3 linked regions of the Homo sapiens genome follow. The gene in region 3 interacts genetically with the main gene of each other region. Each region holds a gene or a part of one and is shown on either strand. Other genes may lie near its edges.

The links.
Region 1: changes in LEO1 (region 3) and DDX46 together harm fitness more than expected from each alone (negative genetic interaction), as found in Homo sapiens cells (one large-scale study listed by BioGRID).
Region 2: changes in LEO1 (region 3) and NAMPT together harm fitness more than expected from each alone (negative genetic interaction), as found in Homo sapiens cells (one large-scale study listed by BioGRID).

The regions. Positions count from the first base shown.
Region 1 is NC_000005.10:134,782,764-134,786,420, forward strand, and holds part of DDX46 (probable ATP-dependent RNA helicase DDX46), read left to right. Parts: intron 1-181; coding exon 182-302; intron 303-1,602; coding exon 1,603-1,778; intron 1,779-2,701; coding exon 2,702-2,823; intron 2,824-3,657. UniProt on the Homo sapiens protein: Component of the 17S U2 SnRNP complex of the spliceosome, a large ribonucleoprotein complex that removes introns from transcribed pre-mRNAs.
Region 2 is NC_000007.14:106,250,792-106,254,041, forward strand, and holds part of NAMPT (nicotinamide phosphoribosyltransferase precursor), read right to left. Parts: intron 2,361-3,250; coding exon 2,226-2,360; intron 403-2,225; coding exon 292-402; 3' UTR 1-291.
Region 3 is NC_000015.10:51,961,632-51,965,288, reverse strand, and holds part of LEO1 (RNA polymerase-associated protein LEO1), read left to right. Parts: intron 1-2,795; coding exon 2,796-2,900; intron 2,901-3,657. UniProt on the Homo sapiens protein: Component of the PAF1 complex (PAF1C) which has multiple functions during transcription by RNA polymerase II and is implicated in regulation of development and maintenance of embryonic stem cell pluripotency.

The sequences.
Region 1 (3,657 bases), on a different chromosome or scaffold from region 3:
CTCCTGGGTTCAAGTGATCTGCCTGCGTCTGTCTCCCAAAGTGCTAGTTGCTAGGATTACAGGTGTGAGCCGCTGGGTCTGGCATAAGAGTTAAAGTTTGTTAATCTTATGCCTAATTGAAAAGTAGAAGACACCAATAGAACAATATTTAAGAACTTTTAATCTGGGTTTTGTTTTGTAGAGGTAAATGTGTTTCGATTGGAAATGGAGGGCATTACAGTTAAAGGAAAAGGTTGCCCCAAACCAATTAAATCCTGGGTCCAGTGTGGAATTTCCATGAAGATCTTAAATTCCCTCAAGAAGTAAGTGGTTGGTGGTTGTTTATGTTTTCCGTGTCTTGCTGCTCAAAATAGTCCTTCCACACCAGTGTCTCCCTGAGTTACATTTTTACTCTAAAAAAACCCTTACGTTTTAAAAAACTTTCATTGAGATAATTTATATATCAAAATTTACCCTTTAAATTATACAACTGGTTTTTTTTTGTTTTGTTTTGTTTTGTTTTTTGAGACAGAGTCTTGCTCTGTTGCCCAGGGTGGAGTGCAGTGGTGCAATCTCACTGCGCTCACTGTGACCTCGGCCTCCCGGGCTCAAGCAGTTCTCCTGCCTCAGCCTTCCGAGTAGCTGAAACTATAGGTGTGTGCCACCATAGCTGGTTATTTTTATTTTTAGTAGAGACAGGGTTTCACCATGTTGGTCAGGCTGGCGTTGAACTCCTGACCTCAGGTGATCCGCCCGCCTCAGCCTCCCAAAGTGCTGGGATGACAGGCGTGAGCCTCCATGCCCGGCCTTTTTTTTTTTTTTTTGAGACGGAGTTTCACTCTCGTTGCCCAGGCTGGAGTGCTGTGGCTCGATCTTGGCTCACTGCAACCTCCGCCTCTTGGGTTCAAGTGATACTTTTGCCTCAGCCTCCCAAGTAGGTGGGATTACAGGCATGTGCCACCATGCCTGGCTAATTTTGTATTTTTAGTAGAGACAGGGTTTCTCCATGTTGGTGAGGGTGGTCTCGAACTCTCTACCTCAGATGATCCACCCGCTGCGGCCTCTGAAAGTACTGGGATTACAGGCGTGAGCCACCAAGGCCGGCCTTTTTTTTTTTTTTTTTTAAGAGATGGGGTGTCGCTATGTTGACCAGGCTGGTCTCCAACTCCTGGCCCCAAATGATTCTCCCATCTCAGCCTCCCAGAATGCTGGGATTTCAGTCATGAACCACTGCGCCCTGCCTAATTTTTAAATTTTTCATTATCCCAAAAAGAAACTTTTGTCCATTAGTAGTCAGTCTTCTCCCCTCTCCCCACCCCTGGGCAACCATTAATCTATTTTTTGTCTCTAGAATAGATTTGGCTATTCCTAACATTTCATGTAAATGGGATCAAACAATATATAGTCTTTACTGCCTGATCTTTTTCACTTTACATAATGTTGTAAAGATTAGTCCATATTGTAGAATGTGTTAGTACTTCATTCCTTTTTATTGCCAAATAGTATTTTATTGTATGATATATACCACCTTTTGGAAGTTCATTTTTATGGGAACACATAGGACCTGTCTGGGGCCCAGCAATCTCAATTCTTACCTTTTCTTCCTTTGGTTTTCTTTTTAAGGCATGGCTATGAAAAGCCCACGCCCATCCAAACCCAAGCTATTCCTGCTATAATGTCTGGACGAGATTTGATTGGCATTGCCAAAACAGGAAGTGGAAAGACCATTGCTTTTCTGTTGCCCATGTTTAGACACATCATGGATCAGAGGTCATTAGAGGAAGGAGAGGGGCCAATAGGTACAATTCTTTTCATTAAACTATTTTTCAAATAACAGCTTTGTTGTCAAACAGAAAGACCTTATAGTTTATAATGTTCTTAATTATGACAATGAAGTTGTCTTTATGTACATTTTCTTTATCAATTTGGCACTTTGGGGCTGATTTCCCCTTACCAGCAGGTGGAGTGAGAATCTTCAGAGCTCTGGAGTGACATCTCAGAAGTACAAAAACAGCCTCTCCTGGCACAGCTCAGTTTTTAAACTCTGACTTGGCAGGTAGACTCCTCGTGCATCTATCTGTTTATTTATATTGAGGTTTGTTAGCCCAGTATCAGTGGATATATAAAAGCGACATGGAAGATATCCTAGGGAAACATATTTTCCTAGGTAGTTTTTGGCCTTAACAGGCTATAATGCCAGCATTTCATTCAAGATTACTTGTTTAGATTCTGGTTTCTTGATTCATCTTGGCAGAGATAACTCTTGGAAAGTTGAGTAGGGTTTTGGAAAGTTGTTCAGCTTCTCTCTTAGGAACACGGGGCATAGTATATCTCTCCTCTGTCTGTGCCCCTCAGACCAAGGTTGTTTCTGGAAGCAGCAGTATGGCTTCTGTGGCACAGTGAGTCACTTGATTTTCTTTGTTCTGTGATTTGCATTAGAAAACTGTTTGCATTCTTTTGAACCAAGTATTTTCCTGAGGGTTGGATGAGGCATTTAACTGTCATTTATCTTCTTTTAGCATGTTTTTAAAAATCTGCTTATATTTATCCTTCCCCACAACCTCTGCTGTTATACAACTTTTGAAATAGTTTTCAGGGATGCATAACAAAACAAAAATTAGGTGAAACAATCTGAACTTTATTGTAAAGGTTAAATTGAACACTATAAAGCACAGCCTTAAGAATTTTGGTGGTTAGGCTACTGATGTATTTATCTTTCCAGCTGTCATCATGACTCCAACTCGAGAACTGGCTTTACAGATTACTAAAGAGTGTAAGAAGTTTTCCAAGACTTTGGGACTTAGAGTGGTCTGTGTTTACGGAGGAACAGGAATCAGTGAGCAGGTAGTTATATAAGAAACATTCATGTTTTCCATTCTTTTCTCAAGTTGGATGATTCAATAAAGTAAAAGTGACTTTTACTTTTAGTTTTTTGAATAGTGATTGCTTCTAAAATCATTTAAAAAATGAAGTATAAAAATAATAGTAAGAATTAGTTATTTTATGTAGGATGAATACCTTTGGAGATGTAATGTACAGCATGGTGACTAGTTAATGTTATATTGTGTGCTGAAAATTCGCTAAGCCAGTAGATCTCACATCATGTTTTTTTTTTTTCTTTTTTGAGATGGAGTCTCGCTCTGTCACACAGGCTGGAGTACAGTGGCGCGATCTCGGCTCACTGCAACCTCTGCCTCCCTGGTTCAAGCGATTCTCCTACCTCAGCCTCCCAAGTTGCTGGGACTACAGGTGCCTGCCACCACGCCTGGCTAATTTTTGTATTTTTAGTAGAGACGGGGTTTCACCATATTGGCCAGATTGGTCTTGAACACCTGACCTCAGGTGATCCTCCTGCCTCGGCCTCCCAAAGTGTTGGGATTACAGGTGTGAGCCACCGTGCCTGACCAATCTTACATGTTCTTACCACAAAAGAAAATATTGGTAACTATATGAGGTGATATGTTAGCTTGATTGTGTTCATCATTTCAGAGTGTATATGTATATCAAACATGTTGTACACCTTAAATATATATAATTTTTGTTAATTATGACCCAATATAGTTGTGGCAAAAAAGAACATACTATGTTAATGCTAGATTAGAATTTTTGAATCTTTTTACATAGATTATCCCTCCTCCCTCTTCCCCTGCCTGAGAAAGCAGATTTTTTTTTTCATTT
Region 2 (3,250 bases), on a different chromosome or scaffold from region 3:
TATAAAAGTTTCTCAGTTCTGTTATTTGTGAAAAGATCAATACCAGATTGAATGACTACCTATTGGCAAAGGGCCCTAAAAAGCTTACTTTAGCACTCATCTTTTACATGGTTAAATGCATTTCCTAATTTGAGATCACCTAAACACTGGAAAAGAAAAAAAATGAAAGGGCAGTATGTCCATAAACCAACAAATAATTTGGCTGTAATGTATCATAAAACACAAACCCCACACATCTGTACAATAAACATTATGTATTACATACACACAACACACACCCAGTCATAAAGCCTAATGATGTGCTGCTTCCAGTTCAATATTCAGCTGTGCATTTTTTCTTATTTCATCAAATGAATAGCTTTTTGTCACCTTGCCATTCTTGAAGACAGTATGGAGAAGATCCTGCATAAATGGAAATTTCATGATTATATTACATTATTAAGCAAAATACCTGAATCCTGGTTTGATGAATTAGACTAACCAACCAGTCAAATACAGAGATGCCAATGGTGTTCAAATTGTGAGATGATTTGATGCATAAAAAATGCTAGTGGAACAAGGTACTATCTAAAATGGCCAATCACTGAGTTGCCTGGTATGTAGAAATATTTAACTTCTATGAAAAGGAATGACCTTAATACTACATTCTTAAACCAGTTTTCTTAAAGGAAAACCAAGAAACCTAGCTGACCAATCTTTTTTTTCCTCAGGCTGAAGGAAGATGCCTGGGTGCCTAGGGAGAACTGTAATCATTGTGAGTGTGCAGCAAAAAAGCCTGGTAAACCCTGCCTTGTTCCTGGCCAACAAACTCAACAGTGATTAAACTTATCAAATGGAAGTTTAAGAAATTTGCTAGTGCTAAATTTGGGTCTAGAAAACCCACAAAAAGCCAAAAGCCAATCCCAAAACAGAAACAAAGAAAAACAAGTATTGCATTCTTGACTAACACACAGTGACTGGGTTAAAGATTCTGTTTATACTCCAAAAGTCAATGACAAAGGTAATCCACTTCATCCATACAAGAGTAGCAAAGACAGATTGAAGAAATTAAATTCCCTTTGGGTCTGGTAGAGCCACTCCTGTCTCACTAAGGAGTTACCTGCTTCTGGTTTCTCTCTGAAAAATCCACAGAAGTAATCTCAATTTTCCACCTAGTCTGAAGATTGAGGTGCATATGACATTATCTAATATTTCTGTCATTGTGTTGCTTCAAACCACAGTGCTTTAGCTGTAGCATTTTCTTTCACAAATTTAAATTTAAGGGAATACTAGTTCCTACTCTTAAATCAAATTGCCTAGATGATTATGAATTATTTTCTAGTTTATTCTACTATCATTCACATACTCTTAAATCAGTGTCTTTTAAAAATCACACTTAGATTTTTACTTTTAGTTTGAAGTGACTTTAGCTCATCTAGGATAAACTAAATCTGCCAAAATCTTAGTAGGTACAAGAGTTACACAAAGCTTACTCAAATAATTGCCTAACAGGCTATATAAAGGGATCTAATTCTAAAAGTTTGATTTACAAACATATTTTTTCATTAACGGTAACAAAGTTATTTCAATTCTGGCTCAAAACCTTAATAAATGTAAAAGTAACATGTTATAAGCAGTAATTGTGATGTAGTATAAAGAATCAAAATAGGAAGTAATAGTGCACTCATGTTTAGTGTACTTTTTTCTAATAATATGAATATTCATGAATAGTTCTGTCTAAAGTTTTTTTTGATCAAGTGGCTTAAAAACCAAAAATTTTTTAACTTGAGTTCACAAATATAAATGTACTTTTGTATGCTAAAGACCATTAGATCATATGAACTACTTTAGTGTACTGTAAATTTTTCTAGTTTGGTTGATTTGAATCAGAAAACTTGGTTAAATCAAGGTTTCACCATTTATTATGTAATCCAAATCAAGTCACCTTGTTTTCACATTTTATATTAAAGTAACATAGTTTGCTTTTGGATAAAGTGTATACAAACTTGCTGTCAATCACTATACTTACGTAATATTTCTCCCTATGTATACACAGGCCCCGTGTTTATGACGTAGACACTTGTTTTGTATCTTATTTTGGTAGGCCAGGTCAGCAATTGGACATTTTATAATAAAATATAATACTTTGTCTTCCACAAAAACAATAACATAAAAACCTCCTTTCTTATTAATTTGGTGAGCCAACCTACTATTGCTTAAAAAAACCAATCAGCATAGATACATACCTGACCATATTCCTCAAGGTCTCCTTTTCCTTCCTCCAGTGTAACAAAATTCCCTGCTGGCGTCCTATGTAAAGATAATCGGCCCTTTTTGGACCTTTTGTTGGGATCAGCAACTGGGTCCTTGAAGACGTTAATCTGAAATCCAAATTAAGAAAGTTAGACAAGTAGAAGACTAATCATCAGAAATGTCTAAACACTCCCTTACAAAAAAGCACATACATAATTTACATTTAAGTTTTAAGCACTTAATAGGTATAACTGAACCAATCCACATCTGGCTTTCAGAAACATAACACTTTAGCCTGTTTTGAAGGATAGTCGTTTGTAATAAAGAAAAAGTATGACATCTTGGATATCCTTTTTGCCACTGAAGAACACCTAATACTCCATTTGTAGGAAGTCTGTGAGCATTCTAACATGTGACCCTTAAGGTATCTCTTTATATTACAAACTGCCTTTAAACTGACAGTAAGCACAGCATGTACATGCTGTTGAAGAAAAGCCCAACTATACCAACTACGCCAAAACCACACACACAATCTTTGGAGAGGGAACAAGAGTATTACTAAGGTAAAGGCTTTCCTATTTCATAACGTATCCCTCTTTTGGTACTTTTTACTTTTGCCTTGTTATTGTCAGAAGCAAAAGTCTTAGAGAACCTGAAGACAGCAGAGTGTTTCTACATCAGAAAGGTAGGCAGCAAAGAAACAGAAACAAGTGGCAGTGGAACAAGCAGCAACAAATGAGTCAATCCCAGAACTTTCCAAAGAAAGATCAAAGAGTGAAGCAGGGAATCAACTCAGGTGTTCTTAATTCTTAGCATCCTCCTGCCTCTGTCCCTTGCTCTATAGAATCTCCAGCTCTCAAGACGTTACAAAGAAGCAAGGGGGGTTGTTGTTCACTTGCCTAGCTGTTCTATGGCTACTAGAACATGACTGTGGTATAACAATCCAAACCTCATATTCTACCTTCCTGTAACAGTTTGGTCAGTGATTATATACTTGCTTGTCTTTAATATATGATGG
Region 3 (3,657 bases):
GATCATCCAGAGATGGTCAAGCTCTAAGGAGTTTACTCAAACTAGTCAAATTTACAAGATATTAATGTATAAAATTGAATTGCAAAATTGTTTCAAGAGGATCAGTTATTTCTCCCTTATCACCCCATATGTTTCCCCGGGGGCAAATCTAGCGTGGATGGCAAATTATAATAATCAGGAGGTTGCCCAGGGAGTATAATATGTAGAAAGTGCAAACATGGCTGGGTGATCTCAATGGACAGTGTTACTGAGCCAAGACAGATTGATGGGTGTATCCTCACCCTACAGAGACGAGCTTGGGTTACAGCACTCATTCCCTAAAGACTACAGGAGGCATACACCTGAACTTTGGTTCCTGGACCTGCTTTTATCATTGCCATTTAGACTATTCTGCTCAAGTTAACACATTCTTCATATAGAATGTACAAAAAATTAGAGATCATATTTCTTTGTATTATATAAAAGTTACCTTAATTAAGTTGAAGTCTTCCTGAAATACCTGGATTGCTTCATTTCCATAGGTGATTGATTATATTAATTATATTTTGATCCTATCTTCTTAGCTTAAATATGAGGGCATCTAACACACACCTCACAGGACAGGATTCAGAAACCACATCTTGGTGTTATTAGAAGAGGAGGGCAGCATATTTCCAGAGATGAATATAGATCTGTGTAGACTATGGGACTGCAGTAAGTTTTCAATAACTAATTCAGAGTAGAGGTTTTTTTTTTTTTTTTAACACTTTAAGTTCTAGGGTACATGTGCACAACGTGCAGGTTTGTTACATAGGTATACATGTGCCATGTTGGTGTGCTGCACCCATCAACTCGTCATTTACATTAGGCATTTCTCCTAATGCTATCCCTCCCCCTGCCCCTCACCCCATGACAGGCCCCGGTGTGTGATGTTCCCTGCCCTGTGTCCAACTGTTTTCATTACTCAGTTCCCACCTATGAGTGAGAACATGCGGTGTTTGGTTTTCTGTCCTTGTGATAGTTTGCTGAGAATGATGGTTTCCAGCTTCATCCATGTCCCTCATGTCCCTGCAAAGGACATGAACTCATCCTTTTTTTTTTTTTGAGACGGAGTCTCGCTCTGTCTCCCAGGCTGGAGTGTAGTGGCATGATCTCAGCTCACTGCAAGCTCCGCCTCCTGGGTTCACGCCATTCTCCTGCCTCAGCCTCCCGAGTAGCTGGGACTACAGGCACCCGCCACCACGCCCGGCTAATTTTTTGTATTTTTAGTAGAGACAGGGTTTCACCGTGTTAGCCAGGATGGTCTCGATCTCCTGACCTCGTGATCCGCCTGCTTCGGCCTCCCAAAGTGCTGGGATTACAGGCGTGAGCCACTGCGCCCGGCCACTCATTTTTTTTTTTTTTTTTTTTTTGAGACAGAGTCTCTGTCATCCAGGCTGGAGTGCAGTGGCACCATCTTGGCTCACTGCAATCTCCACCTCCTGGGTTCAAGCAATTCTTCTGCCTCAGCTTCCTGAGTAGCTGGGATTAAAGGTGTGCACCACCAAACCCAGCTAATTTTTGTATTTGTAGTAGAGAGGAAGTTTCCCCATGTTGGCCTGGCCGGTCTCGAACTCCTGATCTCAGGTGATCTGCCCACCTTGGCCTCCCAAAGTGCTGGGATTACAGGCAAGAGCCACCATGCCTGGCCGAAAGTAGGGCTGTTTTTACTGTTACCAGAAAGAATCTTTAAGGCTCATGTACTACATCCCAAATACTAGAAGACCAAGTCAAGGGCAGGGTCATAGTAGGGAACCTTGTAGCTGGTCATTCTGCTTATCTCTTACTAGTTCAACAGTGGTTCTGTTGATTTTTGTGACATTTTTACGTAAATAATTGGCCCTTCTAGAAATAATGATATATTTGTCAGTTCCTTTTTAATCTTTTTACCTTTTTTTCCCTGAAATTTGTCTTATGTAAATTTGATAAGTTTTAGTGCTACTTTTCTCATTTCTACCAAGTTTTTGTACTTGCAAAGCCAGTATATTTATTTATTTGAGACAGTCTCGCTCTGTCACCCAGGCTGGAGTGCAGTGGTGCGATCTTGGCTCACTGCACCATCAGTCTCCCAGGTTCAAATGATTCTCTTGCCTCAGCCTCCTAAGTAGCTGGGACTACAGGTGCACGCTACCACACCCGGCTAATTTTTGTATTTGTAGTAGAGATGGGTTTCACCATGTTGGCCAGGCTGGTCTTGAATTCCTGACCTCAAGTGATCCACCCACCTCGTCCTCTCAAAGTGCTGGGATTACAGGCATGAGCCACCACAACTGGCACCAGTATTTATTTTAAGAATTCTGTTTTTTAAATTAACACACACTAGAGTTAATTTTTTGGGGGGGGGGCATGTTCTGCATGTACAGCTCTATTCATGTTAACATATCTATAGATTTGTCTAACCACCACCACACTCAGGATGCAGAATCGCTGTCACACTGAAAAACTCCCTTATGCTATCCCTTTTGAGTCGTATCTTTCTGCTACCCCTAAACCCTGGCACCTACTGGTCTTTTCTGTCACTAAACTTTTGGTTTTTTGGAAATGTCATATAAATAGAGTTATACAGTAAGTATGTAGTCTTTCAGATTGGCCTCTTTAACTTGGCATATAGCATTTTTGATTCATCCAATTGGTTACATGTATCAGCAGTTCATTCCTCTTTATTGCTGAGTAGTAGTCCATTGTATCACAATTTGTTTATCTCCAATATTGCTTTTAAAACACAAAATTCAACTAATGCGACTGATTATGCAGAACTTCTAATTCTACCCTTATAGAATCTGCAAGAGGCAGTGATAGTGAAGATGAAGTTTTACGAATGAAACGCAAGAATGCGATTGCATCTGATTCAGAAGCGGATAGTGACACTGAGGTGCCAAAAGGTATCCCTATTATTATATATATATGTATATTTCCATACCTCTTTCTGTATTTAACTGTAGTGCATTTCTAACCCTGAGTGTGTTTACCCCAGATCGCCAGACCCACAGAATAAGAGTGTGGATACGCTCAGTGTACTCAGAGAAGTTATATAGCTATGAGAAGCTGCTCATGCTTAATTAGTTGAAGAAGAACCTGCCTCTTTGTAGTTTTTTTTTTTTTTTTTAAGAGACAGAGTCTTGCTCTGTCACCCACGCTGGAGTGCAGTGGTGCAAGCTCAGCTTATTGCAACTGCTGCCTCCTGGGTTCAAGCAATTCTCCTCCCTCAGCCTCCTGGTAGCTGGAATTACAGGAACGTACCACCATGCCTGGCTAAATTTTTTGTATTTTTAGTAGAGGTGGGGTTTCACTATGTTGGCCAGGTTGGTCTCGAACTCCTGATCTCAAGTGTTCCACCCACCTCAGCCTCCCGAAGTGCTGGGATTACAGGCGTGAATCACTGCGCCCAGTCTGTTTATAGTTAGAGTGAATTCATTATTAGGGGGCTGACCTTCTTATTGGGATGGAGGTTACAATGTCCATTCTTCACTTTGAATAATGACAGTCTCGGTGTTTTGTTCCTAAGTTCTTGACTTAGATGAAGAAACTGATTCTTTGAGCTGTGAGTTAGATGAAGAGCTCATAAAAACCCAGTGTTGGCTGGGTGCAGTGGCTCACGCCTGTAATCCCAGCACTTTGGGAGGCCAAGGTGGGTGGATC